7 linked regions of the Homo sapiens genome follow. The protein of the gene in region 4 purifies or fractionates together with the protein of the main gene of each other region. This does not show direct contact. Each region holds a gene or a part of one and is shown on either strand. Other genes may lie near its edges. The genes, in order: PKN3, DTX1, BCL2L14, RPRD1A, SUPT6H, RNGTT and VPS50.

Region 1 (4,240 bases), on a different chromosome or scaffold from region 4:
CTGGGCCTCAGTTTCCCCATCTGAACAGTGGAGGTGAGTCCCAGCTCTGCCCCACCTCTCCCAATGGATATGAAACGTGTTTTGTCAACGGAGTAAGTTCATGTGTCACGTCACTAGAGGGTTGTCCCTCAAAGGGTAGAGAAAGCAGTGGGGATCTAGCAGCTTTTGAGGACACGAAGCAGGCCCAAGAGTATCATTTAGGGAGAGTCTGGGCCTGGGGGTTACACACAGAGAGAACTTGTAAACAAAGGCAGGGGTCCAGGGTAGAAAGAGAAGCTTAGAAAGAACAGCTCGGCCGGGCGCAGTGGCTCATGCCTGTAATCCCAACACTTTGGGAGACCAAGGCAGGCAGATCACCTGAGGTCAGGAGTTCAAGCCCAGCCTGACCAACATGGCGAAACCCCATCCCAACTAAAAATACAAAAACCAGCCGGGCATGATGGTGGGCACCTGTAATCCCAGCTACTCGGAAGGCTGAGGCAGGAGAATCACTTGAACCCGGGAGGCAGAGGTTGCAGTGAGCCAATATTGTGCCATTGCACTCCAGCCTGGGCGACAGAGCAAGACTCCAGCTCAAAAAAAAACAAACAAAACAAAAACTTGAGGCCGGGCGTGGTGGCTCACACCTGTAATCCCAGCACTTTGGTAGGCTGAGGCAGGTGGATCACCTGAGGTCGGGAGTTCGAGACCAGCCTGGCCAACATGGTGAAACTCTGTCTCTACTAAAAATACAAATATTAGCCGGGCATGGCGGTGGGCGCCTGTAATCCCAACTACTTGGGAGGCTGAGGCAGGAGAATCGCTTGAACCTGGGAGGCGGAGGTTGCAGTGAGTCAAGATTATGCCACTGCACTCCAGCCTGGGCGACAAAGCAAGACTCTGTCCCCCACCCCCCCCAAAAAAAAGGCCGGGCGTGGTGGCTCACACCTGTAATCCCAGCACTTTGGGAGGCCGAGGTGGGCAGATCACGAGGTCAGGAGATCAAGACCATGGTGAAACCTCGTCTCTACTAAAAATACAAAAAATTAGCCGGGCGCAGTGGCGGGCGCCTGTAGTTAGTCCCAGCTACTCGAGAGGCTGAGGCAGAAGAATGGCGTGAACCCGGGAGGCAGAGCTTGCAGTGAGCCGAAATCACACCACTGCAATCCGGCCTGGGCGACAGAGCAAGACTCTGTCTCCAAAAAAAAAAAAAAAAGAGGTGGGGCGAGGTGGCTCACGCCTGTAATCCCAGCACTTTGGGAGGCCAAGGCGGGCAAATCACCTGAGGTCGGAAGTTCGAGACCAGCCTGACCAACATGGAGAAATCCCATCTCTACTGAAAATATAAAAATTCGCCAGGTGTGGTGGTACATGCCTGTAATCCCAGCTATTCAAGAGGCTGAGGCAGGAGAATTGCTTGAACCCGGGAGGCGGAGGTTGCAGTGAGCCAAGATTGCGCCACTGCACTCCAGTCTGGGCAATAAGATCGTGTCACTGCACTCCAGCCTGGGCAATAAGAGCAAAACTCCATCTCAAAAAAAAAAAAGGACAACTCAAGTATCTGGGGTGTTTAGCCAGGGGACAGGATATGGGGTGGCCTTGAGTAGTTGACTTCTAGGCCTTTTAACAAGCTGTTTCTTCTGCGTTCCTCAACTTGTCTACTTGGCCATAAGTACTCCCGTGTAAGTCCTTCAAGGCCAAGACACCACCTCCTCTAGAAAACATTCCTTGGGCCGGGCATGGTTGGCTCACGCCTGTAATCCCAGCACTTTGGGAGGCCAAGGCAGATGGATCACCTGAGGTCAGGAGTTTGAGACCAGCCTGGCCAACATGGCAAAACTCTGTCTCTACTAATAATACAAAAATTAGCCAGGCATGGTGGTGCAGGCCTGTAATCCCAGCTACTCGGGAAGCTGAGGCAGGAGAATTGCTTGAACCCAGGAGGCGGAGGTTGCAGTGAGCTGATATCGCACCACTGCACTCCAGTCTGGGCGACAGTGCGAGACTCCATCTCAAAAAAAAAAGAAAAGAAAATATTCCTCGATTCCCCAAGGCCAGGTGAGAGGGCTCCATCCAGAGCCTGCATTTCCTCTTCTCAGCTCTGCTCACAATGGAATGGGGTCAGTCGGCCCTGTAGCAGTGCTCTGTGGAGACAGGCACTGGCCTTTCCAGCTCTCACTGTATCTCGGTGGGATACAGCTTCAAAGCCCATGCTCTCAGATTATTTGTTGATGATGATTTGGCTGCTGCTACAAGGAGACAGATCTCAGTGCAAGATAAGAAAATTAACTTTTTTGGCCGGGCGCGGTGGCTCACACCTGTCCCAGCACTTTGGGAGGCCTAGGCCGGCAGATCACAAGGTCAGGCGATCGAGACCATCCTGGCTAACACGGTGAAACCTTGTCTCTACTAAAAATACAAAAACAAAAAATTAGCCAGGTGTGGTGGCGGGCACCTGTAGTCCCAGCTACTCGGGAGGCTGAGACAGGAGAATGGCATGAATCCGGGAAGAGGAGCTTGCAGTGAGCCGAGATCGCGCCACTGCACTCCAGCCTGGGTGACAGAGCTCAGAGTCTCACTCTGCTCGGAGTCTCACTCTGTTTGGAGTCTCACTCTGTCACCCAGGCTGGAGTGCAGTGGCACAATCTCAGCTCACTGCAAGCTCCGCCTCCCAGGTTCATGCCATTCTCCCACCTCAGCCTCCCGAGTAGCTGGGACTACAGGCGCCCGCCACCACACCCAGCTAATTTTTGCAAATTTTTTTTTTTTTTGAGACAGAGTTTTGCTCTTGTTGCCCAGGCTGGATTCCAATGGTGCCATCTTGGCTCACTGCAACCTCCACCTCCCGGGTTCAAGCAATTCTCCTGCTTTAGCCTCCTGAGTAGCTGGGATTATAGGCATGCACCACCAGGCCCGGCTAATTTTGTATTTTTTAGTAGAGACGGGGTTTCTCCATTTTTGTCAGGCTGCTCTCGAACTCCCGACCTCAGGTGATCCACCCACCTCGGCCTCCCAAAGTGCTGAGATTACAGGCATGAGCTGCCGTGCCCAGCCTAATTTTTTTTTTTTGAGACGGGCTCTCTGTTGCCCAGGCTGGAGTGCAGTGGCGCGATCATGGCTCATTGTACCCTCAACCTCCCTGGGCTCAAGCAATCCTCCCACCTCAGCCTCCCAAGTAGCTGGGACTACAGGTACGTACCATCATACCTGGCTAATTTTTTTATTTTTTTATTTTTTTTTGAGACAGAGTCTCGCTGTGGCCCAGGCTGGAGTGCAGTGGTGCGATCTCGGCTCACTGTAGGCTCCGCCCCCCGGGGTTCCCGCCATTCTCCTGCCTCAGCCTCCCGAGTAGCTGGGACTACAGGCGCCCGCCACCACGCCCGGTTAATTTTTTGTATTTTTAGTGGAGACAGGGTTTCACCGTGTTAGCCAGGATGGTCTCGATCTCCTGACCTCGTGATCCGCCCGCCTCGGCCTCCCAAAGTGCTGGGATTACAGGCGTGAGCCACCGCGCCCGGCGATTTTTGTATTTTTTGTAGAGATGGAGCTTTGTCATGTTGCCCAGGCTGGTTTCAAACTCCTGGACTCAAGTGATCCACATGCCTCACCCTCCTAAACTGCTAGGATTATAAACATGAGCCACTGAGCCAGACCAGAAAACTCTTTCTTTTTTTTTTTTTCTTGAAAGAGTTTTGCTGTGTCACCCACGCTGGAGTGCAACAGTGCAATCTTGGCTTACTGCAACCTCTGCCTCCCAGGTTCAAGCAATTCTCTTGCCTCAGCCTCCCCAGTAGATGGGATTACAGGCATGCGCCACCACGCCCGGCTAATTTTTTTTGTTTCTAAAGATGAGGTTTCACTATGTTGCCCAGGCTCGTCTAGAAATCCTGGGCTCAAATGATTCGTCCACCTCAGCCTCCCAAAGTGCTGGAATTACAGGCTTGAGCCACTGTGCCCAGCCAAGAAAACTTTCTTTTTTTCTTTTTTTTTTGAGACTGGGTCTCAAAAAAACTCCTGAGCTCAAGCAATCTTCCCACCTCAGCCTCTCAAAGTGCCAGGATTATAGGTGTGAGCCACTGCACCCAGCAATTTTAGTTTAATTTTATTATTTTTTTTCCAAGGAAATTATTATTATTATTTTTTGAGATGGAGTCTTGCCCTGTTACCTAGGCTGAAGTGCAGCGGCGCAATCTCAGCTCACTGCAACCTCACCTCCTGGGTTCAAGCAATTCTCCTGCCTTAGCCTCCCGAGTGGCTGGGA
Region 2 (4,930 bases), on a different chromosome or scaffold from region 4:
GGTCAAACATGCCAAGGATTTCTAGGCTGCTTCTGCACGGCAGGACCCCACCAGTCCCCACTGCCCATGGAGCTTGTCACAGATACCACCGGGCAATGACTCAGGGAGATCTCCCCAACGATGACAAATCTCCAGAACAAAAGAGAGTAGGCCTGAGAGTGGGACCTCATCGATTTTATCTCCATCATCAGCCATCACATTACCACCAACGCAACCATCAACATCACCATCATTACAACCACAACAGGATCACCAATACCACTAAGTAACAGCCACACACAGGGCTACCAGCCACACCACATGGCCACGAAGACTGCCACCAACATCATTCTCTCATTTTCTCCATCATCACCACCCCATCACACCACTTCCAGCACCACCACCAACACAACTATCAATGTCACCAACACCACTGAATCCCATGGTTAACGCTATCACTGACATCACCACCAACACTGCCACGTCACCATCATCCATCCCTCCATTGTCACCAAGACCCCACCACCATCAATACTATCACTGAGTCACCACCAACACAACCGCTAACACTGTCTCCTCCATCATTGCCACCTCACCCCACCATCAACACCACCAACGCCCCCCATCCCCAATTAATTACCACCAGCACGACTCCACCCCACAAACCAACACTTGGAGCCAGTATAGGATACCAGTTAAGAACTTTGGTTCTGGAACTCAACCGCCTGGGTTTAAATCCCAGCTCTGAGTTTAAATCACTCAGCTTCTGGGAGACTCGGTTTCTTCATCTATAAAATGGGACTCATAATAATACAACAATACACAGACTTACTGCCTGTGATTCTTGGGAAAAATCAAATGAGGAAGTGCATGTAAAGCCCTTATTCTACAATCCCATGCTACTGCTGTTCTAGGTTCTGTGCTCAGTGAGCACAATTTTATTTAATCCTCACTCAGCTGTGAGAGATATTGATCTACCCATTTTGCAGATGAGGAAACTGAGGCTCAGAGAGATGATGCAACTTGCTCAAGGCCCTACAGCTTGCTCAGAGGCTGCATTGGAATCCAAGTCTTAAACTGGACAAGGTTAGACTGCCCTGTTTTTCTGGAGGTGAGGCAGGGAGATGGGGAAGGGATTTGGCATCAGCAGATTTACTGGGATTTTCAGCATCCTACGCTGCAAGGTAGTGATGGCTCGGCGGGGCGGGTGGCATGGGGTGGGTGTCTGCTCACCTGTGTCCTGGCGAAACTGGTGCATGGACTGCAGGTCGATGATGTAGGGCACAAGCTGGGCGTCCACCTGCCCCAGGACCACGGAACCGCGAGCGTCCTCCTTCAGCACGTTCTCAATGTGGTGGCACACGGTGGCCGTGTAGGGCCGCCAGCGGCTGTGCTCATTCAGCCACTCCCACACCACCACCCGGGCCACGTTCTGCGGTGGGAAGCCCAGACCATTCACAGGCATCAGCCCACCGTGGCCTGGCCGTGACATGGCCGCCACTGCCTCAGGGGCCAGGTCCCCCACTATTGCAGGCCCAGCTCCTCCTGGGCCTGGCAGCAGGCGGCAACTTCCTCTCTCCCCAGGGGGACAGCAAGGACCGTCTGGCCTCCTTTCTAACTCTGGGTTCTCTCTGAGGCCTAGAGACCTCCGTTAAAGGAATGTGGGATGGCCATCCAGGCTGCAAAGACCCCTTCCCTGTAGAGCCTTCTCCGATAAAGGGTGCTGCCCTGGAAAGCAAGTGTCTCTCTTATGCCGGAGGAAACAGCTCTAAAGTCCTTGGCCCCCTCGGCTGGCTCAGGTAGGGAGTGAGGCAGCCGCCCCTGTTCGAGGTCCAGCCTCTTCCGTGTTGTCTCTTGGTCCCTCTTCCCCGCCAGACAGGGCCTGTCACCCAGGAGGCCTGGGCCACAGCCTGCTGCTCCTGCGGCTCTCAGCCAGCCCTTTGCACTCCCAACTGCGTCCCAGACCCTGCGCCCGGCTTCAGTGGGGCTTCTCGCCTCCCTCCGGTCTGGGCCCCCTTCTCCGACGGCTCCTGCCGAAGGGGGCGTCCCTGCCCCCTTGTTCCCTCTCCACGGTGTCCTGGAAGGCCTGGGTGGCCGCAGAACGCACGGGGGAGGGGTGCGGCGTGGACCCTCGGGCGGCGCGCCTGGACTGCGGCTCCGGAGCTGGGCTGGGGGACGAGGGGGACGAGGGGGGCGGGGGCCCGTGGGCACGCCCCACCCCACTCGTGCTCGCGACCTGCCAGGAGACAAGAGGGGAGAGGGCCCTTTAAGAGGAGAGCGCAGCACCCCCTCCCCCCTTCCCAGGAGAGCATTCGGCTGAGAACAATGGGGAACCGAAGGGGGACAGCAAGGGGGGCGTACGGGGTCGCCCCGCCCGCTTTCCCTTGGGGCAGGCCTGGAGGGAAGGCAGGGGCCGGGGGCGCGGTTTTCCGAGACTCTCCGCCTGGGGGGCGCCCTCCTTGGCTCCCGGAGCCTTCCCTTCCCCCGGGGCCCTCGCCCTGCCGGGGGGATGCCGGGTGCGCTGGGGTGCGCCGGGAAGCACGGGGATGCGCGGCGCTGCAGGCGCGGCCCAGGGCCCCTCGGGGGTCGCGTCGCGGAGGGGGCGAAGCCAGGAGCTGGATCGTCTCTGCCTCCCGCCCTGGGGGTAACAGCCCCGCTTCCCCAGCCCAGACGTCCCCGAGCCGCTCGCGGGCCCCCAGCGGGAGCCGGGGGTGGGGTCCCTAAGCACCCGCGTTCTCACCGCCTCTCTTCGTCTCCGGCTCCGGCTCCGGCTCGCGCTCCAGCACCGCCGCCTCCTGGGCTCCCCCCGGAGTGGGAGGGAGCCGCGGTCCCGCCTCCGCGCCCGTTCCCTCCCAGGCCCCTCGGCCGCCGCGCCGAGCTTTCCGCGCGTGGACAGACTGCCCGGCCGACGGACGGACGCAGGAGCCGGCTGGCGGCCGCCGGGATCTCGCGGGTGGGAGGAGGCCTCGGCCGTGCTCCGGGAGGGAGAGGGGAGGGGGCGGAGGAGGAGGAAGGGGAGGAGACAGATCTCGGCCCTGAGCGCCACCGGCGCTGACACGCGAGTCTCGGGGCGCCCCAAATCCTCGGCCAGGCCCTCCCGAGACCCCAAGGGGCCTTCTGACCCCAAGCAGAGCGTGAGGCAGGGAGTGGGATGTTTAGGAGTCACCGGCTTGAATCTTTGTCATCTTTATTTCCAGTCTCCCAGTCCAGGGCCTGGCACTGAATAGGTGCTCAATAAATGCTTGAATGAATGAATAAGATCCAGAGACTGTCTAAAGAAAGATCTTGAAGCATTCAGAGCTAGCCTCCTTTCCTCCTCTAACTATTCCTGGGGGTGGGAGGGTGCTGACAAGGCCTGATTCAGACTCAGTTGGAACCGTGGAATCTGAAGAGTACAGATGAGGAGACTGAAGCCAGAGAGAGTAAGAGCCAGGCCCAGGATCACAAAAGCTTAGAGCGATGCCCAGACACCAACCCCGATCTGAATCTCCTGCCAGTACCCAGTTCCCAGCCCTGAGCCCACTTCCCCCAAAGCACCCACCTGCTCCAGGTGAGAGGGGTGGGACCAGGGGAGGGGACCCTGGCCAGGAGGTGAGATCCTGGAGGAAGAGAAGGGCAGGCCCTCTGCCATGTCATTCACAGCCACCTGCAAACAACTGGTGCTCAATAAATGGTGGGTGAGCATTGGTTGGATGGAAGGGAAGGCTGGAAATGGCAGCGGCTCAAGTGTTAACGGGATGGCCAGTCCCCCTGTCCTCCAGCAAGCTGGATGCGGCTGAGACACACATTGGCTGGGAGGGGGGTGGACCACCTGGGGCCTGGGGGTGTTTAGATTGGGGAAGATGAAGGATGCGTCCGGGAACTCCAGCCTGGGTGGCTGACGGGGGTCAGTGGCCTGTTTGGGCGCCTGCCCAGAGCAGCCCACGCCTGCCTCCCCGGGGCAGATGGGGATACACTAGGCAGGGTCAGGGGCAGGCTGCTCAGGGGTGCTTTCCCAGAATCCAGCTCTGGCTCTCCGGCCAGCTGGAGGGACCTCCCCTCCCCAGGCCCCTGCTCTGACCTGCAGCCCAGTGTTGGATGGGCTTTTTCAGATTGGGTCAATGATTCTGCTTGCTTTCACCTGCTGTAGACTAAAGAGAGAGGCTTTGCATAGGGCAGGGCCAAGTCTGACGATACTCCCACAGGATCACTGAGTTCTGGGATTTTAGCCTAGGGTCCCTGGATGGCCTTCTGGGGTCCATGAAGTCCCCCTCTCCCATTACAGGCAAACTTGTGTGTCTAGGCATTGTGTGTCTTGTATGTCTGGGAAGAAGGGCTCTGGCTGTCAGCAGATTCTTCTCACAGGAGACTGTGACTGAACGGATTCAGAGCAGGTGCTCAACCAGCTTATGTTGTAGAAGGATCTGGGGATCCCACAGTGGAGAAGAGATTGGCTCAAGGTCGCATGGTGATTTAGCAGCAAATTGGAAAGAAGAACTCGTGTCTCTGGACTTCCTGTCGAATGCTATTTAAGGTCTGATTAAATGTCACCTCCTCCAGGAAGCCTTTCCTGAATTCACCCCATCTTCCTCTGTGTTCCTTTGCCCATACCTTGACATGACACCCTGTATCACAATTAGCCTCTTAAATGAAATCTGTCCCTGCTAGAGTGAGATAGCCATCATATTCATCTTGGTGTGGTGTGGCTGGTGCCCCATTACATAAGGGTGTCATTTACTGAGTGCCTATTATGTGCCAGGCACTTAAATAATACTTACTACTCTTCATAACTGCCCCACAAGGAAGGTAATGTTGTCCTCATTTTACACAAGGAAACAAAAAACCTCCTGAAGCTCAGAAAGGCTAAGTAGCTTACCCAAGTTCCCACAAGGAGTAAGTGGCAGAGCTAGGGTCTGAGTCCCAAATGCTTTTGCACCTCCCATAGCACCATGCTGCCTCTGTGTTTGTTGAG
Region 3 (4,240 bases), on a different chromosome or scaffold from region 4:
TTTTAATTTTTTAATGGAGACAGGGTCTTGCTATGATGCCAGGCTGATCTCAAACTCTTGGTGTCAAGTGATCCTCCTGCCTTGGTTTCCCACAGTGCTGAGAGTATCGACGTGATGGGCTCTCACTCTGTCACCCAGGCTGGAGTGCAGTGGCATCATCTTGGCTCACTGCAACCTCTACTTCCCAGGCTCAAGCCATCCTCCCACCTCAGCCTCCCGAGTAGCCAGGACCACAGGCGTGCACCACCATGTCTGACTAATTTTTTTGTATTTTTTGGTAGAGACAGGGTTTTGCCATGTTGCTAAGGCTGGTCTTGAACTCCTGAGCTCAACCGATCCACCCACCTTGGCCTCCCAAAGTGCTGGGATTACAGGTATGAGCCTCAGTGCCTGGTGAAAATGTTTCATTAAGTACAATTAATTTTGTCCAACTGAGGGAAGATTTTGTCTAAATGCTTCTCAGTTGTTTTTGTAGGATGGTTTGTACTTTGTCAAGAGTCCTTTTACTCTTGCTCTCTGATCTTCCCATCAACCATACGAGGTGGAGAGAGTGGGGTACCCAATGTACAGATGGAAACACAGAGGCCCTGAGCGAATGAGTTGACTTAGGAAGAGCAGCGGCCCAGGCAGCCCAAGCAAGCCCCTGGTTAGGGCTCGTTCTTTTTTTTTTTTTTTTTTGAGACAAAGTCTTACCCTGTAGCTCAGGCTGGAGTGCAGTGATGCAATCTCGGCTCACTGCAACCTCCGCCTCCCAGGTTCAAGCGATTCTCTTGCCCCAGCCTCCCGAGTAGCTGGGAATACAAGCATGCGCCACCATGCCCGGCTAATTTTTTGTATCTTTAGTAGAGACGGGTTTTCACTATGTTGGCCAGGCTAGTCTTGAACTCCTGACCTTATGATCTGCCCACCTCAACCTTCCAAAGTGCTGGAATTACAGGCATGAGCCACTGCGCCTAGCCTCCTTCTTTTATATTGGTGTCTGGTACAGAGGACTAGGAATTTGGGAAACAAGCTTATTTATAGACAGTGGAGAAAGAAAACCAGTCCCAGCACCCTTAACTTCCATCATTTCCTTTTAGTCATTTTTTTTTTTTTGACGGAGTCTCACTCTGTCACCCAAGCTGGAGTGCAGTGATGCCATCTTGGCTCACTGCAAGCTCCGCCTGCTGGGTTCACGCCATTCTCCTGCCTCAGCCTCCCGAGTAGCTGGGACTACAGGCACCCGCCAACACGCCCGGCTAATTTTTTGTATTTTTTAGTGGAGACGGGGTTTTACCGTGTTAGCCAGGATGGTCTCAATCTCCTGACCTCATGATCCACCCGCCTTGGCCTCCCAGAGTGCTGGGATTACAGGCGTGAGCCACCGCGCCCAGGCAGCAACTCCTTTTAGTCTTGAGAAAAGCAGGGCAATTATGATTGAACACTAATAAGTTGGAAAGCTGAGGCACAACGCATGCCTTCTCTAAAGCCACTTTACAACATGAGAAGAGATGTACCACTCTGGACACAAAGAAGGGAAAAACCAGGAAGCGGGAGAGAAAGAAATCCCAGATGCCTACCTTCATGCTCCAAGCACTGCTCCACGTTAGAAAGACACCTGGACCACTGCTGGCTGTGCGAATCTTGGTATTCCAACGTCCTTTGACCCTGAGCAGAGACCTTGGCAGGCGTGCTCTGCGAATCTTCCTTCTCCACTACTCCAAAGAATGCTTTCCAAGAAGACTTTTTCTTGCCAAGGTTTATGGCCTTCTCACTGGATTGGGAATTTCTGCAAGGCCATGACACCTCTGTCCATGACTCATTTGCTGAACAATTCCCCAGGCCCCTCTGGGACAAACTTCTTGTTCTCAGCAGCTTTGGTGAGAAGAGAGCAGGGGTGCTCTTGAAGACATGATGTCTGGTGTAGTAGGCGAGGATTTTGAATTCTATGGTGTTTAGGTCATCATCATCTAGGGGGATTTCTTCCAGGTCACACCCACTGGTGCTACACATGTTGGGCCTGTAACAACAAAGTCCACACTGTGCCCTTCTATGCAGGGCCACTTACCCTTTGCAGGTTAGGAGAGACAGGGGTGAAAACTCAGGAAACATTTATTGAACATCTATTGTGTTTGTGCTGGAGGGTAGAGAGGGAAAAGCCACAGTCTTACTAGGGTGGGAAGAGAGACATGGCCATAGATAACTCCACATAAAGAAAATGAACTGCCGGGTGCGGTGGCTCACGCCTGTAATCCCAAAACTTTGGGAGGCCAAGGCGGGCAGATCATGAGGTCAGGAGTTCAAGACCAGCCTGGCCTATACAGTGAAAGCCCGTCTCTACTAAAGATACAAAAATTAGCCAGGCATGGTGGCGCACGCCTGTAGACCCGGCTACTTGGGAGGCTGCGGCAGAAGAATCGCTTGAACCCAGGAGTCGGGGGTTGTAGTGAGCTGAGATTGCGCCACTGCACTCCAGCCTGGCGACAGAGTGAGACTCCGTCTCAAAAAACAAAAAACAACAGAGAGAGAATGAACTAATGAACTAAGTAAGAGGTCTAACAGAGATGCAGATAGCCAGGTTAGAAGGCAGGGATAGGTGAGCTTCAAAGAAAGAGGCAAGTGAAAGCTTTTGGAAAGCTAGAAGGAGTTAGACAGGTGGGTGGATATTGGGGCTACAACAGGGCGGGCAGAGGGGAGATTATAGGTGAATTCAGAATGTGTTTGAAGAGTGGTGAGAGAACTGGGACAGCATACGTATGCAGTTTGCAAATAGCCAGGGCTTGAAAATAGTGGAGGGAAAATAAGTGAACTAGCACTTGGGTCCAGATTATGGTGGTCTTTGACTATCAGGCTGAAGCTTCGCATTTTCTCACGTTGATCAGTACATTTCAAAATGAGCTGTGGACTGTGGAGTTAAAGGTCTTGCTGGGGAGGTGGCAAAAGAGGGAGGCCAATTCAGGGAAGAGAAATGCCTGGGACCTGACCCTTCCCTTCCTCGGTTCCTTCTCCCTCTACCCTCTGCTTTAGCTTGTCCCGGCTTCTCTCTCCTCTCTCTCTCTCTTTCTTTTTTCTTGCTATATTTGGTATGCCATGTAAGATTTCATCTGAAAAAAGCATCCTGTTATTTTATTTTACTTTTTACGAATTTGAAACACACTGATGGAGGCAATGGAGAGCTGTTCAAAGTTTTGAGTAGAGAGTGATGTGATCACAGGCATGTTTGAAAAAGATCAGTACAAGCACTAAAACAACAGGATGCAAGCATTTCTTCTTTATTTCCATACGAATAACAGGATAGATAAAGAACTGATTTTGTTCAATTTCCTTTGCTTGAGCTTACATGAAATAACTCCTTCTCTGGTTTCCTGCTAGGAAAGCAGTTCTTTTTGCTAATAATCTGTTTCCTTCTGCTGTCTGTTAAGGACTACATTTTCCTTTTAGTCTCAGATGCGAGAAAGCTCAGATCTACCGTGTGAAATGTCCCAGGCAGTGAGCGTATCAAGAATTAGCTTGGGCTTCTCAGTCTAACAGTCCCAAATTCAGATTGTGGCCATGCCAGTGACTAGTTTTGTGACCTGTGGCAGGTTACTCCATCTCTCCAAACATGAACTTCCTGCAGGCAAATTGTAAATAATAATAGTCATCTTGCAGGGATATTGTAAGGGTGTAAGATACACAAGAGAAGTTCCTGCACAGAACCTGGTTCAAAAGTGGTAGCTATGTTTTTTTTCTAGTTCAGCTGTTGTCCTAGGCCCCAGGCTCTCTTTTTTTTTTTTTTTTTGAGACTCAGTTTTGCTCTGTTGCCCAGGCTGGAGTGCAGATCATAGCTCACCACAGCCTCAACCTCCCCGGCTCAAGGGATTCTCTCACCTCAGCCCCTCAAGTAGCTGGGAACACAGGCACATGCCACCACACCTGGCTAATTTTTTTGTTTTGTCTTTTAGAGACAAGGTCTCGCTATGTTGCCCAGTCTGGTGCGAAACTCCTGGGCTCAAGTGATCCACCTGCCTCAGCCTCCCAAAGTGCTGAGATTACAGCCATGAGCTACCATGCCCGGCCTCAGGCTCTGTCTTAATATGGCTCTTAATAATGTTCCCTTCCCTTTCTGGTCCTAATTTAAGACGGTCTTTCGGCATGTAAGCTGCTGTGATGATAAAGAAGCTGCAGTAATATTAAGGGGACTGGCTGGCATGTTCCTCTTTTTCTTTCCACTGTACCTTGTCATACCAGGACCAAATGATAAAGAAATGGGACAGTAACT
Region 4 (4,240 bases):
TGGCCACCACACTCCAGCCTGGGCAACAGAGCCAAACCCTGTCTCTCAAAAAACAAGAACAACAACAACAAACATATATATATATCACACACACACACACATACACACACCTTAAGTCACTTATTTTCAGACATAAAACACTAAACGTTTATCTAGCCCAGGCTCCATGGCTCATGCCTGTAATCCCAGCACTTTGGGAGGCCAAAACGGGAGGATCACTTGAGCCCAGGAGTTTGAGACCAGCCTGGGCAATATGGCAAACACGGTCTCTACAAAAAATACAAAAAAAATTATTAGCCAGGCATGGTGGTGTGCACCTATAGTCCCAGTACTCAGGGGGCTGAAGTGGGAGGATCGCTTAAGCCCAGGAGGCAGAGGTTGCTGTGAGTTGAGATCATGCCACTGCACTCTAGCCTGGGTGAGAGAGTAAGACCCTGTCTCAAAAAAATAAATAAATAAATAAAAGTTTATCTAAATGTGTATTATCCTGTCTACCTCCAGAAAGGACTTATGAACAGAAATGTTCAATTTGAAAAGTCAAATAATGCTGTTCTACATAACACCACATTCAAATGATTACAACAGCTAAAACCTATGTCTATATTCTTGGTACAGCTCCTAGTAAATTCTACATATACTTCAAATCTTAAACCAAAGGACCCTTCCCTGATTCCATAAACTAGGATAGGTTCCCAATTACATTTCTCCTTTGTATTACTGTGCAGTTACTAGTTTGGCAAAGTCCATTTGCCTGGCTGATATGTAAGCTCCATGAACACAGCTGTATGTCCCTTTATCTGCTCAATCATCCTTGTTCACTAAGACAGTAAGGAGGTCAACAAGTATTTCTTGAATAAAGAAACCTAATAGAAGAAACTTCTTGTATTTTTTGTGACAGGGTCTCACTCTGTTGCCCAGGCCAGACTGCACTGGTCAGATCATGGCTCATTGCAACCTCTGCCTCCAGACTCAAGCAATCCTCCTACCTCAGCCTCCTGGGTAGCTGGGACTACAGTCATGCACCACCACACCCTGTTAATTTTTGTATTTTTAGTAGAGACAGGGTTTTGCCACGTTACCCAGGCTGGTCTCAAACTCCTGGCCTCAAACAATCCACCCGCCTCAGCCTCCCAAAGTGCTGGCTGGGATTACAGGCATGAGCCACTGCGCCCGGCCAGAAAACCAACAGAAGAAACTTCTACTTGTACATTTTGAATGAAAAATTTATTTTATCAAGAAAAAAAGCCTGTAAAATTACAGATTGTTTGTTTAATGTAGGAACACACTTTTATTTTTATAAGAAATGTAGAGATAATTTGTTGAATCAGATGTAAAAACATCAAATCAACAACTTTTTTTAAAAAACCTTAACGTCACAGGAAAGAGAACCTAAATAAAATTACGTTACGGGCCAAAGGGAAATTTTATAAATTCAGTTTCTGCTTTTCTGGGGAATTAATATTTTAGAGGGATATGTCTGCTTAAGGCAAAGCAATGTATCCTAGTCTCTTGATCTAATTATCAATATTCAGAAAATGGTCCACTTCTCAGCCAACAGTCTGTGGATTCCAGGGGGTCAAGACACTTTCATGGGGTCAATTAAGTCAGAACTACTTTCACAAGAATGCTCATCTATTATTTGCCTTTTTTCACTCTCATTCTCTCACAAGCGTACAGTGTTGTTTTGCAGAGGTCATGTGATACAGCAAGACTGAATGCAGAAAAAGACACGAGAATTCAGCAGGCTTCTATTAAGAGAGATCTTATAAAGATCTGGAAAAATGTAAAATAATCACTCCTTTCCCTGGTATTTTTTAGCAAATATAATTGGTTTTCATTAAAAATGTTATGTTACGATAATTGCATGAGGTAATGGATACTAACTACCCTTATTTGATCATTAGACCAACATATACATCTATCAAAACATCAAACTGTATCCCATAAATACATACAATTACAATGTGTCCATTTGTAATTTTAAAAATCTTTTTTTTTTTGAGATACAGTCTGTCACCCAGGCTTGGAGTAATCTCAGCTCACTGCAACCTCCGCTTCCCGGGTTCAAGTGATTCTTGTGCCTCAGCCTCCCAAGTAGCTGGGATTACAGATGTGCACCACCACGTCTGGCTAATTTTTAAATTTTTAGTACTGACATGGTTTTGCCATGTTGCCCAGGCTGGTCTCAAACTCCTGACCTCATGTGATCTGCCTGCCTCAGTCTCCCAAAGTGCTGGGATTACAGGCATGCACCACCATACCTGGCCTTAATTAAAAATTTTTAAAATATTATTTAACATGAATCGATTTAGTATTATAGTTTTAAAACAAATAATTATTAAATAAATTTTTAAGTGTTTTAATTTCCAATGTAGTAACTAGCGGTAGATATAACCCACATAAACAAAAGATTTAGAATCTTCAATTTTTAAGAGTAAAGAGATCCTCAAACCAGAAAGTAGGAGAAATTCCTGGTCTAGAATAAGAATTTCTTTGGAACAACCAATTTGATTTTTTCAAAGAATACATTTAAAATAAAAGACAGATGGCACCCATAGATGTAAAGGAACTTTATTTACATAGTAATCAATTGCAATAAATGAACTTTACTTGGATCCTGATTCAAACAAATGGCTTCTAAAAAAGTGAAATGATCACGGAAATAAATACTGGCTCAATATTTGATATCTTAAGAAATTAAGTTTTTTTAAGTGTTAAGAAAGACTATAACTATTGAAGCTGCAAGATGACTACATGGGAGTCACCATGTCAGTTTGACAACATTAATCCTTTTAAATATAAGAACTTAGAAGGTGCTAGCATTGTCTACTTACTTTTTCAATTCTAACTCTGAAAGAGAAACAAGTAACAGTATCAGACAATATAAAAGCCACTGAACTGTCAATTTAAAACAGACTCTCTTCATTTTTAGGATTTATATTGCTATATATTTTTAAAGCAAATGAAAAATGTTCTTTTGGCCGGGTGTGGTGGCTCGCGCTTGTAATCCCAGCACTTTGGGAGGCCAAGGTGGGCGGATCACGAGGTCAGGAGATCGAGACCATCCTGACTAACACGGTAAAACCCCCATCTCTACTAAAAATACAAAAAAATTAGCCAGGCATGGTGGCGGGCGCCTATAGTCCCAGCTACTTGGGAGGCTGAGACAGGAGAATGGCATGAACCCGGGAAGGTGGAGGTTGCAGTGAACCGAGATCGCGCCACTGCACTCCAGCCTGGGCAACAAAGCGAGACTCTGTCTCAAAAAAAATAAAAAAGAAAAATGTTCTTTCACTTCTCCATTTTTCTAAAACCAAATTAATAAGAACAGCCAAGAATATACAGTACTTATTTTAGCACATCTTACAAGTTTAAGCCGTATTAGTGAATACGAATGTTAATTCAACGAATATTTAAAAACTTTCATCAAACGCAGTATGCTGGGGAGCTAAAAATTGAAATAGGTAAACAACCTGAAGGAGCCCACTATCTACTTCACAACCAATATGTAACCCCCCAACCTATAATACAATATAAAATGGTAATTAGTTCCCTGAAAGATATCTAACATAGCTTATTGAAAAAGTGATGATTTCAACAAATGATTACAAATAGGAGGAAAATCTAAACCTTAAATAATGTATTATTTTAATTGTTGCCAACCCTAGAAAAAATAAGCCCAGCATGGTAGTGTGCACCTGTAGTCCCAGCTACTCGGGAGGCTGAGGCAGGAAGATCACCTGAGCCCAAGAGTTCAAGAGCAGCCTCGGCAACATAGTGAGACACTGTCTCATAAAAAAAAAAAAATTTAGGAAACAAAGTTAACAGGCATTCAAAGGCTGACCATTTCCAGGTTTGGCTCTTTGCATCCAAAGCTATGTATCACCTCAGCACTTTCACATATTCCCAGTGGCTGCAGGCCCAAGCCCCCCTACCCCCGCAACTTGTTCAAAGAGGTCTTTTATTAAACGTCACCTTGCAGAGATGATTTCCCTCTAACTAAAGATTTCCTCCTTCAAAGAACTAAACACGAAATTTATATTTAAAATTTTTTGTTTATTGGTTGCCCTTACCACAAGACTATAAATTCTGAGGGCAGGGATAAACTGTTTTCCCTTTGTTTTCTTTACCATTGTAATACACAATCAATAAATACAGGGTGAGTAAACATACTTTAAGGGGTTGAGGCACTTACAGTTTTGTTAAGACACCAATATAACATAAAAGAGGCTGGTACAAA
Region 5 (4,240 bases), on a different chromosome or scaffold from region 4:
CAAAACAAACAAACAAACAAAAAAACCCAAAAAACTACTGTTATTCATAAAAAGTATTATTGTTTACTACTTTAAAATAAATCAATAAATATTTTTAAATGTCTCACTGAGTTTTAATTTCGAATCTGGTAAATATCAAAGGATATAACTCACATAAACAAAATGTCTTTGAAGTCCTAAATAAGTTTTAAGAGTATAAAGGGGTCCTGAGTCCAAAAAGTTGAGGAGTGACTGTAAAGACCCTAAAGAGATGCGGTATAGTAAGCCTAGGGGTTAGGGTGATGCTCCCCCATGACCCCAAGATCTCTATCCTTAAGGTCATTTAGCTTGAGCACTGCCAAAAGTGAAAGTCTTAAACTTCTGCCAATTAAATCTAGAGCTCTAATTTTAATTTTGACATTGCTCCCCCTCAGCCCTGAACTGAGCCATTAAAAACAGATTTGAGTACGGCAGCCCCCACACATAGCTTGTTCTAATTAGGCTATCAGACCCACAAGTTCAATCTTTTAAGGCCTCAACATCTTCAAATTAAATGCCAGCTCCTGCAGACCAGATGCCCCTCAGCCTACTTAACAGAGAAACACACAGCCTACCTGATGAAAACAACAGCTTTCTTCTGTCTCAAGGGCAGCTGGTGCTCCATGCTGCACACAGCTTGGAAAGATAGCTGTGTTCTCTTTCTTCCCATCGCCTAGGTTAGCAATAAAGCACACACTATGCTATAGCTGGGGAATGCCTCCAATCTAGCTCAATACCAAGACTTCCAGTTATAAGAGGTGTGCCAGAAGCAATTCTGACTTGCTGCAACTTGCAGGAGCTAGATGTGCAGACTGCAGTAGCACTGCAGTCTGAGACTGACAAGCGGGAACTACTCTAGAATAAAGACACTAATGTATTTATTTGTGTATGATTATTATTAATACATGGTATCTATGATGAGCCTGATGTAGTTTGGATGTTGTATTTAGCACTTATGCTCTTAAAATTTTCCCCATACTCACACTGTAAGTTAAATTTGCAACTGGAATAGGTCTAGAAGGGCAGTGGGGAGATGGAGGGAGAGGTTTCTCTAGTCAGAAGCACAGCTGCAGAACAAGATGTGGCTCAATGGGAGAGGCTGGTGGTTACCATGACATTCGCTGGAAGAGGAATGGAACTGGGATCAGATTGCCACAAGGGAGGCCCTCTGCAGTCCCTCCCTTTGAACAAGAAGTTGTAGTAGGCAATTAAGAGGAGACCAGAGTGAAAAGAGATCTAGTCTGTTAATTCCTTCCACTTTGCAGCTTCAATTAACATTTGCTGGGTTTTTTTTTTTTAGAGTCAAGCTCTGTGCTGGGACTTGTGTATATAAAAATGAGTAAAATATGCTTCCTACCCCGGTGGAGTTCACAGTCTTGGTGGAGTTCACAATCTATCTCAAAAAACTTGTTAATAACGTTATGACAAAGCACAATAGGGTTATGTTAAGTTATATAACTGGACTATGAGAGCAATGGGAAGGTTGGGGAATATCTGAGAAAAGGTGATGCCTGAATAAAAGAGGATTTAAGAAAACAGTCTGGAAAAAGGCAACATGAGCAAACATTTAGGCGTGGTGCTCTGGAGAACAGCCCCAGAAGTCTAGGGTGGAGTTTAAGCTACAAGACATTCCATGTTGTCTTGTATCATATATACATATATATATATAAAACACACACACACACACGTATTTATATATATATACACATATACATATATACACACACATATATACACATATACATACATATGTATACACACACACATACATATATATATATATATATATATATATATATACACACACACACTTTTTTTTTTTTTTTTTTTTTTTTGAGACGGAGTCTTGCTCAGTTACCCAGGCTGGAGTGCAGTGGCATGATCTGGGCTCACTGCAAGCTCCGCCTCCTGGGGTCACGCCATTCTCCTGCCTCAACCTCCCAAGCAGCTGGGACTACAGGTGCCCACCACCACGCCCAGCTATTTTTTTTTTTTTGTATTTTTAGTAGAGACGGGGTTTCACCGTGTTAGCCAGGATAGTCTCAATCTCCTGACCTTGTGATCCGCCCGTCTCAGCCTCTCATAGTGCTGGGATTACACTTGTATCCTATATTTTATGGGCAAGGGACTAGGACTATTCCAAAGGTATCCATAAGTGAATATCCAATTTGGAATTTCAAAACCTAAAAGTTTAATAGATAAAAGTATTTAGAGTCTACTTAAGTCCTTTTAAATCTGGAATTCAGAAGGCTTTGTAATTAAAAAAACCCTGAAAACCTAATTACATGAAGTCAAGATGTTAAAATACAGAAAAAGTTAATTTTGTTCATTTAAAAATATTATTTATTCGGCTGGGCGCGGTGGCTCACGCCTATAATGCCAGCACTTTGGGAGGCTGAGGCAGGCTGATCACTTCAGGTCAGGTCAGACGCTCGAGACCAGCCTGGCCAGCATGATGAAACCCTGTCTCCACTAAAAATACAAAAATTAGCCGGGTGTGGTGGTGCACGCCTGTAATCCCAGCTACTCAGGAGGCTGAGGCAGGAGAATCGCTTGAACGTGGGAGTCAGAGCTTGCAGTGAGTCGAGATCATGCCATTGCACTCCAGCCAAGGTGACAGAGCGAGACTCCGTCTCAAAAAAAAAAAAAAAAAAAGTATTCCTTTTCTTTCCACATTTCTTTAGAGAAACAGGGTAAGGGCTAAAGAAGAGTACAACTGAAATATGTAACCAGATTCAGAACCCCTGCAACACAAAGAGAGATTAACAGTTACTGAACCTTGTGGTACACACATTGAGGAGCGCATAGTTCCTGCTCTAGCACAGGGGTTGGCAAACCTTTCCTTTTCTCTATAGGGCCAAATCTGCCACTGTAGCACAGCATACATAACATGTAAATGAATGGGGGTGACCTTATTTGGCTCACAGGCCTTAGTTTGTGACCCCTGATTTAGAGAATTGATGATAAGAATAGCATGGGATCCTGTAATAAGACAACCTAACCTGGTTTTGAGGAAGTGACTTTAAACAAAGACCTTAAGAGTAAGGAGGAATTAGTTCAGCAGAGGAGCTGGCTTCTTTGGAGATGGTTTGGGGAGTGATGTCAGAGACGTGTGCTTCTAGCACAACACGTGTACTGTGGCAGGTACAGAGAAGGCCCAGGAGAGGAAGAATGGTTCATAAGGGTTGGAGAAGTCATAAGGATCTAGGCACTGGGAAGCCATTGCAGGGTTTTAAATGTAGAACTGAACTTAATCTACTTGCTAATCCAACAAAAACTTATTATTTTCTGAGATGGGGTCCTGCTCTGTCACCCAGACTGGAGTGCAGTGGTGTGATTACATCTCACTGCAGCCTCCACCTCCTGGGCTCAAGCCATAATCTCACCTCAGCCTCCCAGGTAGCTAGGACAAATACATATACATATACATATACGTTTTTTTGAGACAGAGTCTCGCTCCATTGCCCAGGCTTGGAGTGTAGTGGCACGATCTCAGCTCACTGCAACCTCCGCCTCCCAGGTTCAAGCAATTCTCCTGCCTCAGCCTCCCAAGTAGCTGGGATTACAGGCACCCACCACCACGTCCAGCTAATTTTTTCTTTGTATCTTTAACAGAGACGGGGTTTCACCATGTTGGCCAGCCTGGGCTCGAGCTCCTGACCTCAGGTGATCCGCCTGCCTCAGCCTCCCAAAGTGTTGGGATTATAGGCGTGAACCACCATGCCTGGCATAAATATGTATTTAATGAGTGCCTACCACATGCCAGGCACGTACAAGACTAGGTCCATGCCCCTAGGATGCCCGTATTCTGGTGCAGGAGACATATTGGCAACAAATAAAATAAACCTTGCTCTAAAAGCGAAGAAGGAAATGCATATTCTCATCTCATCTAAAGTGAGTTTACTTAGGCTGAGATGTCAATAGGTAGGATATGACCTGTAGAAGTAGGAGGAGAGGTTCCAGTAGAGAAAGTGGGCAAGAACATGGTATATAATAGGTGATGTCCTGAGGCTGATGGCACTAGAGCATGGTGAAGGCAGCAGCCTATGAGGGAGAGGTATGCTCAAGCAGGGCGTAAAGGCCATGGAAAGTCACTGGAGAGTTTTAAGTAGGGAAATGACATGATCTGCCCTGATCCAATTCTGTTACATGGAAAATGAACTGGAGGAAGATCTGAGTGGAAACCAGGGAAAACTGAAGATACTGTTGTGGTAGCCCAGGC
Region 6 (4,240 bases), on a different chromosome or scaffold from region 4:
ATTAAATTTCACTGATGTGTTTCAAGTGAATTAATGCAGTATTTCTAAATTCCTATTTTCCACATTTTATAGGTCAAAGAACATAGTTAAGCAAAGCAAAACAAAAGCTTCAATGCTCACATCTGACAGTCAGACAATTAGGTGGTTTGAATTATTCTTGGATTTGGAATTTTACAAAAACAATTTGCACATGAAAATGTAGAAGAAACAGGAAACTACAGGACTGTTTTAATTAACAAAAAAAAACAGATATGGCAACTATAATTCTAGCCCAAGTAAATTGACATCATGAATCATACTGCTATTTTTAAAACTTCACAAGAATCTATTATGCCGCTCTCAGTTATCCAAGTTTGAGGTGAAATAAATAGTATTGCTAAGTTAAATCTGTAGATGGTTAAATATCTAATTTTTAAGCATTATTTCCTACCTAGAATGCCCTCAGCCCACGTCCATCAAAAATCTTTCTATAGAAATCTTTCTGTTTCTAATGCCAACTCCTACACAAAACATATTTAGTTCCTAACTAACTAGATGTGATTTATTTCTCCTCTAAACTACCTCAGGACTTAAATACCTCTCTTTGGGTTATTGTTTTATTCAAAGGTCTCTTCCATCATTACCATTCATTCTCCACCCTGCTCAATTAAGCAAAATGTTTCAAGGGTGAGGCCTTCTCCTCAACCCTCTAAGCAATACCCGTACTCTTGGTATAGCAACTCATAATAGGCACTCAACAAACATTAGTTCAATTATAAACTATACTAAACTTTGACAAATGCTATTACTTAAGTCTTTTCCTTTCTTATATTTTATTAATTATAATGCTAAAAAAAGTACCTTAAATAAAGATAACAAAAACTAAAATGTTCCTGCTGTTCCCATGAACCAACTACCAGAGCTGCCACAAATGACTATGACTTTTATGTACTATACAACCCCAAGGGTACCAGTCACATTAACTATGATAGTTAAATCTATACACATATAGATACATATACATGTACATATGTATATATATATCATTTTTATTAGAAAGTGGTATTTTGTTACTCATGCTGTCACAGGAATGAAAATTTACTAGATACAGGAAAAAATACAAAAATCAAAATGTCCAACAAAAGGGAACTGGTTAAATAAATTACAGAACTATTTCTCAAACTTGCCTAATTACAATCACTTGGTCACTTGTACGGACATGTAGGCCCCTGGGAGATTCCAATTCATATGGTCTAGGATATGCTATTGGAAAGGGTCATATTTTAAACAAGCAATTTTTTAACCCTACAATTTTCACAGTCAAGATAGTTTGGAAACCCCAATTTATGGTCTCTATATACACAATGGTAAACCATTCAGACATTTATGTGAAAAAGATGTCCAAAACACATTGCTAAGTGTGGGGAAAAAGACAAGTTACTAACCACATGTAACATATGTTTCTCTTCATGCAAAATTATATAACTATCCATATGTATACATATTTGACCAGAGCACTCATTTAACACCCTTTACATATCTTTAACAAATTTCTCCACCAAAGAAAATATCTCAAAGTCTTACTTATGCTCAAAGATTCAGTTGGCAGATCTCTCTTTAAGAGGACCTTAATTCAATATAAGTATACATAAGAAATAAATGAAATTTAACATCCTAATAAAAGTTAGATTTGGCTGGGCGCAGTGGCTCATGCCTGTAATCCCAGCACTCTGGGAGGCTGAGGCGGGTGGATCACGAGGTCAGGAGTTCAAGACCAGCCTGACCAACATGTGAAACACCTTCTCTACTAAAAATCCAAAAATTAGCCGGGCGTGGTGGCACATGCCTGTAATCCCAGCTACTGGGGAGGCTAAGGCAGGAGAATCACTTGAACCCAGGAGGCAAAGGTTGCAGTGAACCGAGATCCCGCCACTGCACTCCAGCCTGGGCGACAGAGCGAGACTCCGTCTCAAAAAAAAAAAAAAAAAAGTTAGATTTCATTCGAAATTTCTTAACCAACAGAAATACACATTTACTTACAAGGAAAAGAAAAATGGCAATGTTTAATTTTATAGTATACATAAATATGACTTACGCCATCCAAGAGAGTATTTGATAAATGCATACGAAGATCTTTACGAAATGGAAATTCCAGATTTGAAACATGAAATACTGAATTGTCTCTATCAATCATAAAAACTTCATTTGTGCCATCAATCAACATCATGTACCTGTAAATGAAACATTAAAAAGCTAATATTTACAGTATAATATCAAGAACAGGGTCATGAGAAATAACATACTGGTTTTCCATAGACCTTAAACATCTGTAGACTAATGTTCACTGGAGTCTCTTTATCATGTAGATTAAAGTATCACAAATAATAATTTTTTTTTTTTTTTTGGAGACAGAGTCTTCCTCTGTTGCCCAGGCTGGATGGAGTACAGTGGCACAACCTTGGCTCACTGCAACCTCCGCCTCCCAGGTTCAAGCAATTCTTGTGCCTCAGCCTCCAGAGTAGCTGGAATTACAGGTGTGTGCCACCATGCCCAGCTAATTTGTTTGTTTTTTCTTTCTTTTTTTTAGTAGAGATGGGGTTTCACTATGTTGGTCGCGAACTCCTGGCCTCAAGTGATCTGCCCACCTCAGCCTCCCAAAGTGCTGCGATTACAGCGATGAGCCACCACGCCTAGTCCACAAATAATAATTTTTTTAACTTTTTTCATTTCCTATAGAAAACACAGAGTATAGGGAATTCTAAGTTTTTTATGGAGATAATGTGATATTCAGGAGTAACCTTATGAATCCATCCTAACAGAGAATGGTTCTCTAATTTTTATGAGATCTTAAACATTGAAGCCTTTCAAAGTTTACAAAATACACATATACACATATATAAATGTACTTTACTAGCTCAATAACTATATGGATTAGGTATTCTCTCCACTTCAAAATAGAAAAAAGCAGTGAAAAACATTAAGTGATTTGCCATTTGCCAGACTTTAAATTATCCAGTGCTCTTTCTACCATACCTGTTAGCAAAACAGCTAATCCCTCTCTTTGAATCAATATCATGATATAGCCAGGTACCACAATATCAGGTATAACTTTTCTTCTCATTTATGACTATAAAATTAAAATATTTTTAAACACAGCCATAAGATTTTCAATTATCTCTTATCTTCTTAAACTCAATCAACATATGGGGGAATTCATACACTTAACAACCTGTCATTCTTCAAATGGTTAGGTTATCATCACTGATTTCCCATCAGCAAATCAAGAATGGAGTTCTATTTCACACCACATATAAAGTCCAGATGGACTGATGTTGAAGACATTACAGTCTGGGAAGCTATGCTACCAAATGGATAATAAGAAGACTTGGGGTGAAAATGAAGATCAAATCCAAGAACCAAAGTCTTCAAAGAATGAGAAAAAATTTATAGCAAAAAAGATTAGAAAGTTAAAAGGCATAAGCCTCAAAGAAACAGAATCATTTTGTTAGGCTGTTTTTGTTTGGTGTTTGGTGTTAAATGAAAGAATGGAAGAAGAGTGGTCTGGAGGTACCAACGAAAATGAAAGAGAACACTGACCAGACTGCCCAACCTCCTACCCGCAAAGTACCTGAGGTATGTCCAAAAAAAAGGCAGCAACGACTGAAAGATGCAGCTGAATCAAGTTAAGATTAGGGGACAGAAGAAATATTACATGAAGACATGCAAGCTAACAGAGTATATGGAAGCTAATATAATAGTGGATAACTGGCTAACCACAAACCAATGTTCTGAAGAGCAAAGTACACATGTTTAGGATAGGTGAGGAGAAATAGGAGAGCTGATGAAGGGAAAACAAGTGTACAAACAAAATGGAAAAGAGCAGCATGGAAGACCAAAGGGGCTTATGTTTTTGGATTAGATTGTGAAGTATGTTGTTCTTTGCTGTTTCCAAAATAATCAGTTCCAAAAAAAAAAAAAGTGAAAAAAGAAAAAGGAAAGGAAAAAAGGCAACATAATAGAAAAAAATTTTTTTAAAGTTTTAATAATAATGATAATTAGTTCCAGCAGGTGTCTGGGGAGCAGATGGAGAGCTCAGGCCCTTGCTATAATAGCTGCAGCCCTAGTAGATGGGGAGTGTGGGGACTCAGGTTTCACTAGGAAAAATAAATTCAGCCTCAGTCTGGACTGACTGTGTATCTGAAAGACTCCTAGACCAAATGCCAGGCCAGCTGGCACACAGACAACAGGAATACTTAGTTCG
Region 7 (4,784 bases), on a different chromosome or scaffold from region 4:
ACATGATCTAGCTTCCTGCCTTCAGTCATCTAACCTCATCCTAACCTCATCTCCCACTACTCTTCTCCTCACTCACTTCACCCACACAGGCCACTTGCAATTTCTCAAACAAGCTCCTGCCTCAGGACCTCTGCATTTGCCTTTCCTTCCACTGGAAATGCTCCTTCCCAAATATCTACCTCACAGAGTTCACTTCCTCACCCCCTTCAGGTTTTTTTATATTACCTTCTCTGTGAGGCCTTCCGTGGCCATCCTATCTAAAATTATAAGTGACCTCAAATCACCAACAATTCCCAGGACTTTCTATCCTCTTTTCCTCTACAGTGTTTATCACCGTGTCTGCCTTAACACTTGTCTATTTTTTTTTTTTTACTTAGAATAGTACCTGGCACAAATTGCTCAATAAACATTTGTTGAATGGACTGAAAGAACAGAGGTGAGCATGATGGAGAAAGATGAAGAACAGATCTCATCTAAATAAAGAGAGCTAACAAAGCCTTCCTTCCTCCCATTATTTTGCAAACAAAGATCCCAGGACAGCTGAAATGTCCCAAAGCTTAAATTTCACAGACCTTAATTTCCTATCTCTCCATATTAACTCAATATATATTATTAGCACATTCTATAGGTTCAAAAAAAGAAATACTTTCATGTATACTTACTTGTAATCCTATTAAATTTAACCCAATAATAAACTGTACTAATTCAAACCCTCAATGTAAATAGCAGGCACACTAATTTCATACCTCATAGATTCAGGAACTGTGCATCAGTATCAAATATGTGAAAGTCAAGCCATAACATATATAATTAGGATAACTTTAAATATGTATGCAAAACTCCTAATTTTACCTCACTTTGTACACAGTATGGTTCCAGCTTTTTGTATGTGTTCTTTAATGTATTTTTTTCCATTTCAATTAAACACAGGTTTGACCTGCTGAAATTCAATAAGCAACTGACTAAGGCTTAAGTGTTACCATTTTCAGCACAATTGCATTACATTTAGGAGACATACACTTATCACTGCTATCTGAAATTTTTTTCTCTCCTCAGTTTTACAAAATGAGGTCAAAAAAACTAAACCAACCACAGCTACCATACAATTATGACAACGTTAACTACACTGAACTGTATGGCAGGCAACAAACTTGAGACAGCATCAAACAGCTGATGCACAAAAGTCCAAATTCAGCATTCCAAAGGCAGTTTAGAGGTATTAGTGATATAAAGTACAAAAGTATATATTGATTTAAAAATCAAACAGGTACCGAAGTCAGCATGAACTTATCTATTGCTTGAATTACTGCAACAGCCTGCTTCCAATTTTCCTGCTTTCCCACCATCAACATAGCCAATGTAACTAACGGTCTCTGCGTTCAAGCACTTCCTTGATAATGCCCAGGAACTCCGTTAACGCCTTAAACTCTTTAACTTCATTATATCATGTAAACACCACTATCAGGCTAACTCCATAAGGCACACATTATTCCTATTTTAAAGATGTGGAAATAGATGCTTAAAAACGTTATGTAACTTGCCGAAAGTCACACAGCTGCCACAGGATACAGCAGGACCCAAACTCATCGTCAAGTAAGAAGTAGTAGGACGCACAACACCAGTACTCAACACATGTGAGGAATTAACAAATGTTACTAGCCACTTACTTAAATATTTTTATTATTCACAGAACATTTTGATTATATTTTCATAACATTAACAAAATGCTCTGACATAACTAAAATAATCATGTAAGGGTCATTTGTGCATTGTGCAAGAGAAATACACAATTTGTATCCTGTTTATATATCTCTCAAATTGTGAATTCTCAAATAAGAATGTGGAATTTGAGTTATTTTTGTAATCAACAAGAAAAAAACTCACAAATATACCTTTCACTAAACGATTACCTTCCACATTCTCCAAACTTCTAAAAGCCATGTTGATTTAAAACTCTAATCTTAACTATCTTTCATATTAAAATAATAAAATGACCAATTCTAGTGAAATATTAAAGCTGAAGTAAATAAAGGCAGCTAAAACAAAGTCATAATCAATAAGTACATAAAAGAAAATTTCTGCACTTCTTAAATGAAGCTGAGGCATTATTACGAGGTCCCTAACATTTATGAGACAGGTTACAAAATAGCCAAAGCTCTTATTCATGAATTTCCATTCTGGGGAAAAAAAAGAAAAGATCAGTATTTTGCCATGACAAAAATAAATTTTTTAAAGCAGAATTTCACAAAGAGTTTTCACATATATTAGCTTATCGATGACCCTCATAACAGAACTGTGAAGTAAAATGAACAAAAATAATTATTTTCACATCCAGAAACGTAAGCTACAAAGTTTGGGGACTTGCCCAAAATCCAAAAGCTACTAATTCTGTCTTCAAATCATCCGTTTTCAGTCTTTCCAGGTCACCTCTACTGCACAGACCACACCACCCTACCCAGGCTATCAGCTCGCATATGACAGACAGCCTGGATGCGGAAGACCTTGCAAGGAAGCTCGGGCTGTTCTGGAAAGACGGCAAAAAGAGGAGGAGGGGAGACAAAGATACCCTGATTCCTTCAATGACTTATTTTTAAACGAATATTTCTGGGAGGCTGGTACCCGCTGGAGCAGTGCTCCAACCCAGGCGGCCCAGGTGAGTTTTCTAGGGTATGCCCCGGCTTCCCAGTCCCCCTGACACCTGCCACCACCCATAACTTAGATCCCCGCCCGCCACTGGTTGGGGACAGAACATCTCGGCTCCTCTCACTTCCGAGATGAAGGAAGCCTTTGCTTCAGCCGCCGCGACTTACCTGTCGGGTCATGAGAGATTTGATTTTTTGCATATCGAAATCCTGAGGAGGGTACCCTGCCTCAAAGAGCTAACAAATCACACCGAGCCACTACACAGCTGGCCCTGACACTAGGAAGCCATAGTGGGTGGTCACGTGGAGGAGCCGACCCAGGGTATCCTGTCTTTCCCTGGGCCTGCTGGGAACTGTAGTCTTCTGGACGCCGGCGGTAGCAACGATGAACTAAAGTGGCCAACCCAGGGACTACATCTCCCAGCAAGCAAAAGAGCGGGTGCTTCAGTTAAGCCGGTAAATATTACTGCTCAGAGCGACCACTGCGATCGCCGGTCTTACAAAGGTGCTTGCACTAGGCAGTAGCTACTCTTCGGCGAGACGGAAACCTAAGTCACAGGTGACTAGGCGTTGAGCGAAAGATCAAACTCAGAGGAGACAATATATAAGCCAGATTGACGCGATGTCCCCTAGGAGTGTGAGGGAGGAAACCTCACCTGGTCTAGAGGGGCGGGGTGGGAGAACGAGAGACTGACGCGAAGGAGAAGGAACTCAAGAAAGGGCTGTCACTGAGGGGTAACCTGAGAACTCGAGACTACCCCGGGCGCGCTGGGTTTGGCCTGAGGAAAGGTGTGCTCTAGGTTGCCCAATAGGCGGCCCTCCAGGTTTAGGGCTGTTCTACCTCAGTCTTGGTATCCCCTGCAAAAGCTCTAAAATCGAAGGATTTTGACGCCCGCCTATTATTTTACCTCCGTACTCTAAAGCAGTGATGACGGGAAATACGACAATAACGAGTATACCTGTCACTTTAAAGTCCTCTTTTCAACTTTTGGCAGTTTAGTTAAATTGGGGAAAGGAACAGAAGTGTCTTTGGGGACACAATTTTAAAAGGACTTTACAATTATGAGAATATGAGAAGAAGAAGAAAAAGCAGCCCTAAAGCTAACAATGATAGCTAACACTTATCGAAAGCCGAGTACCTGTCAGGAACTGCTAATAGCTTTAAATATATGATTTCATTTATCCACACAAGAATCCTGTGGGTTCCCATTTTAAAGATGACGAAGCAGGTATGGCGAAATTAAGGAACTTGCCTAAGATTACTGCAGATGTGCAAGTAGAAACTGAAGGATTAATCGGTCATCAGATGTGTTAAGATTTTCATGTATTGTGCTGAAGAAAGTTCTAAAGCATGGCACCAATTTTTTTAAGTTTATTTTATTATAATGTTAACTTCTAAAAGTATGACACAGACCCATAATTTCAAAAATATTTCTTAGAATAAAAAAAGTTCAAGTGTGTCAACGTAATAAAAAATACTAGGTAAACAATAGTATGGGTGGTAGTCAGATATGGCAAAACTAATAAAGGTGATTTGCAAATGACTGAAGTTTGGGGGACACTAACAGAGGTTATTTCTGATTCTGAAATTCTATTTTCTCACCCCTTAGAGCCTCGTTTTATTAATTTTTACAAATGAGGTTGTAATATTTTAATATTTTATATAGGGCTTTGTAAGGATAAGTGAGATGATGTAGGTGAATGAAATGTATAAATTGTAAAGCACTATACAATTATGAGGTATTATTGGTTTTGATTCTGCCCAGTTCTCTACTCCAACAGAACCACCTTGTGCATACTTGTATCATCACTGCGTTCAGCAATTCCTTTGAAATTATATGTTTACCTATATGCTTCTCTGACTCTGTTATTTCTAACCCCTTCAAGAAATTCTGGTCACATTTAGGGCAAGTCTAGTTTAGTTTATTCTTTACCTTCTCTAATCTTAATTGTCAGACTGTTCTTTGTGTGTGAAAATCTGCAATATTTAGAAGTCCCTGAAAGCATCAAAAGAAACAAAAACTGCCAGCCATATTAGCCTATAAAATAAAACCCAAGTCAATAAACATTTCTTGATTGTTGCGCTCAAGGCAACACTAAAATAAGCACTTTGATTAATAATCTATGGTTGTGGTCACAAGG

What was found.
Region 1: the proteins of RPRD1A (region 4) and PKN3 purify together in Homo sapiens (affinity purification with mass spectrometry, with the first as the bait; one large-scale study listed by BioGRID). This does not show direct contact.
Region 2: the proteins of RPRD1A (region 4) and DTX1 purify together in Homo sapiens (affinity purification with mass spectrometry, with the first as the bait; one study listed by BioGRID). This does not show direct contact.
Region 3: the proteins of RPRD1A (region 4) and BCL2L14 purify together in Homo sapiens (affinity purification with mass spectrometry, with the first as the bait; one study listed by BioGRID). This does not show direct contact.
Region 5: the proteins of RPRD1A (region 4) and SUPT6H purify together in Homo sapiens (affinity purification with mass spectrometry; one large-scale study listed by BioGRID and IntAct). This does not show direct contact.
Region 6: the proteins of RPRD1A (region 4) and RNGTT purify together in Homo sapiens (affinity purification with mass spectrometry, with the first as the bait; one large-scale study listed by BioGRID). This does not show direct contact.
Region 7: the proteins of RPRD1A (region 4) and VPS50 purify together in Homo sapiens (affinity purification with mass spectrometry, with the first as the bait; one large-scale study listed by BioGRID). This does not show direct contact.

What each region holds. Positions count from the first base shown.
Region 1 is NC_000009.12:128,708,263-128,712,502, reverse strand, and holds part of PKN3 (serine/threonine-protein kinase N3), read right to left. Parts: intron 1-4,240.
Region 2 is NC_000012.12:113,054,734-113,059,663, reverse strand, and holds the start of DTX1 (E3 ubiquitin-protein ligase DTX1), read right to left. Parts: upstream 2,935-4,930; 5' UTR 2,720-2,934; intron 2,216-2,719; 5' UTR 1,472-2,215; coding exon 1,213-1,471; intron 1-1,212. UniProt on the Homo sapiens protein: Functions as a ubiquitin ligase protein in vivo, mediating ubiquitination and promoting degradation of MEKK1, suggesting that it may regulate the Notch pathway via some ubiquitin ligase activity.
Region 3 is NC_000012.12:12,077,058-12,081,297, reverse strand, and holds part of BCL2L14 (apoptosis facilitator Bcl-2-like protein 14), read right to left. Parts: intron 3,593-4,240; exon of another isoform or gene 3,320-3,592; intron 2,000-3,319; 5' UTR 1,993-1,999; coding exon 1,560-1,992; intron 1-1,559. UniProt on the Homo sapiens protein: Plays a role in apoptosis.
Region 4 is NC_000018.10:36,057,171-36,061,410, forward strand, and holds part of RPRD1A (regulation of nuclear pre-mRNA domain-containing protein 1A), read right to left. Parts: intron 1-4,240. UniProt on the Homo sapiens protein: Interacts with phosphorylated C-terminal heptapeptide repeat domain (CTD) of the largest RNA polymerase II subunit POLR2A, and participates in dephosphorylation of the CTD by RPAP2.
Region 5 is NC_000017.11:28,664,984-28,669,223, reverse strand, and holds part of SUPT6H (transcription elongation factor SPT6), read right to left. Parts: intron 692-4,240; exon of another isoform or gene 594-691; intron 576-593; exon of another isoform or gene 1-575.
Region 6 is NC_000006.12:88,851,555-88,855,794, forward strand, and holds part of RNGTT (mRNA-capping enzyme), read right to left. Parts: intron 2,211-4,240; coding exon 2,075-2,210; intron 1-2,074.
Region 7 is NC_000007.14:93,230,527-93,235,310, reverse strand, and holds the start of VPS50 (syndetin), read right to left. Parts: upstream 2,946-4,784; 5' UTR 2,844-2,945; coding exon 2,811-2,843; intron 1-2,810.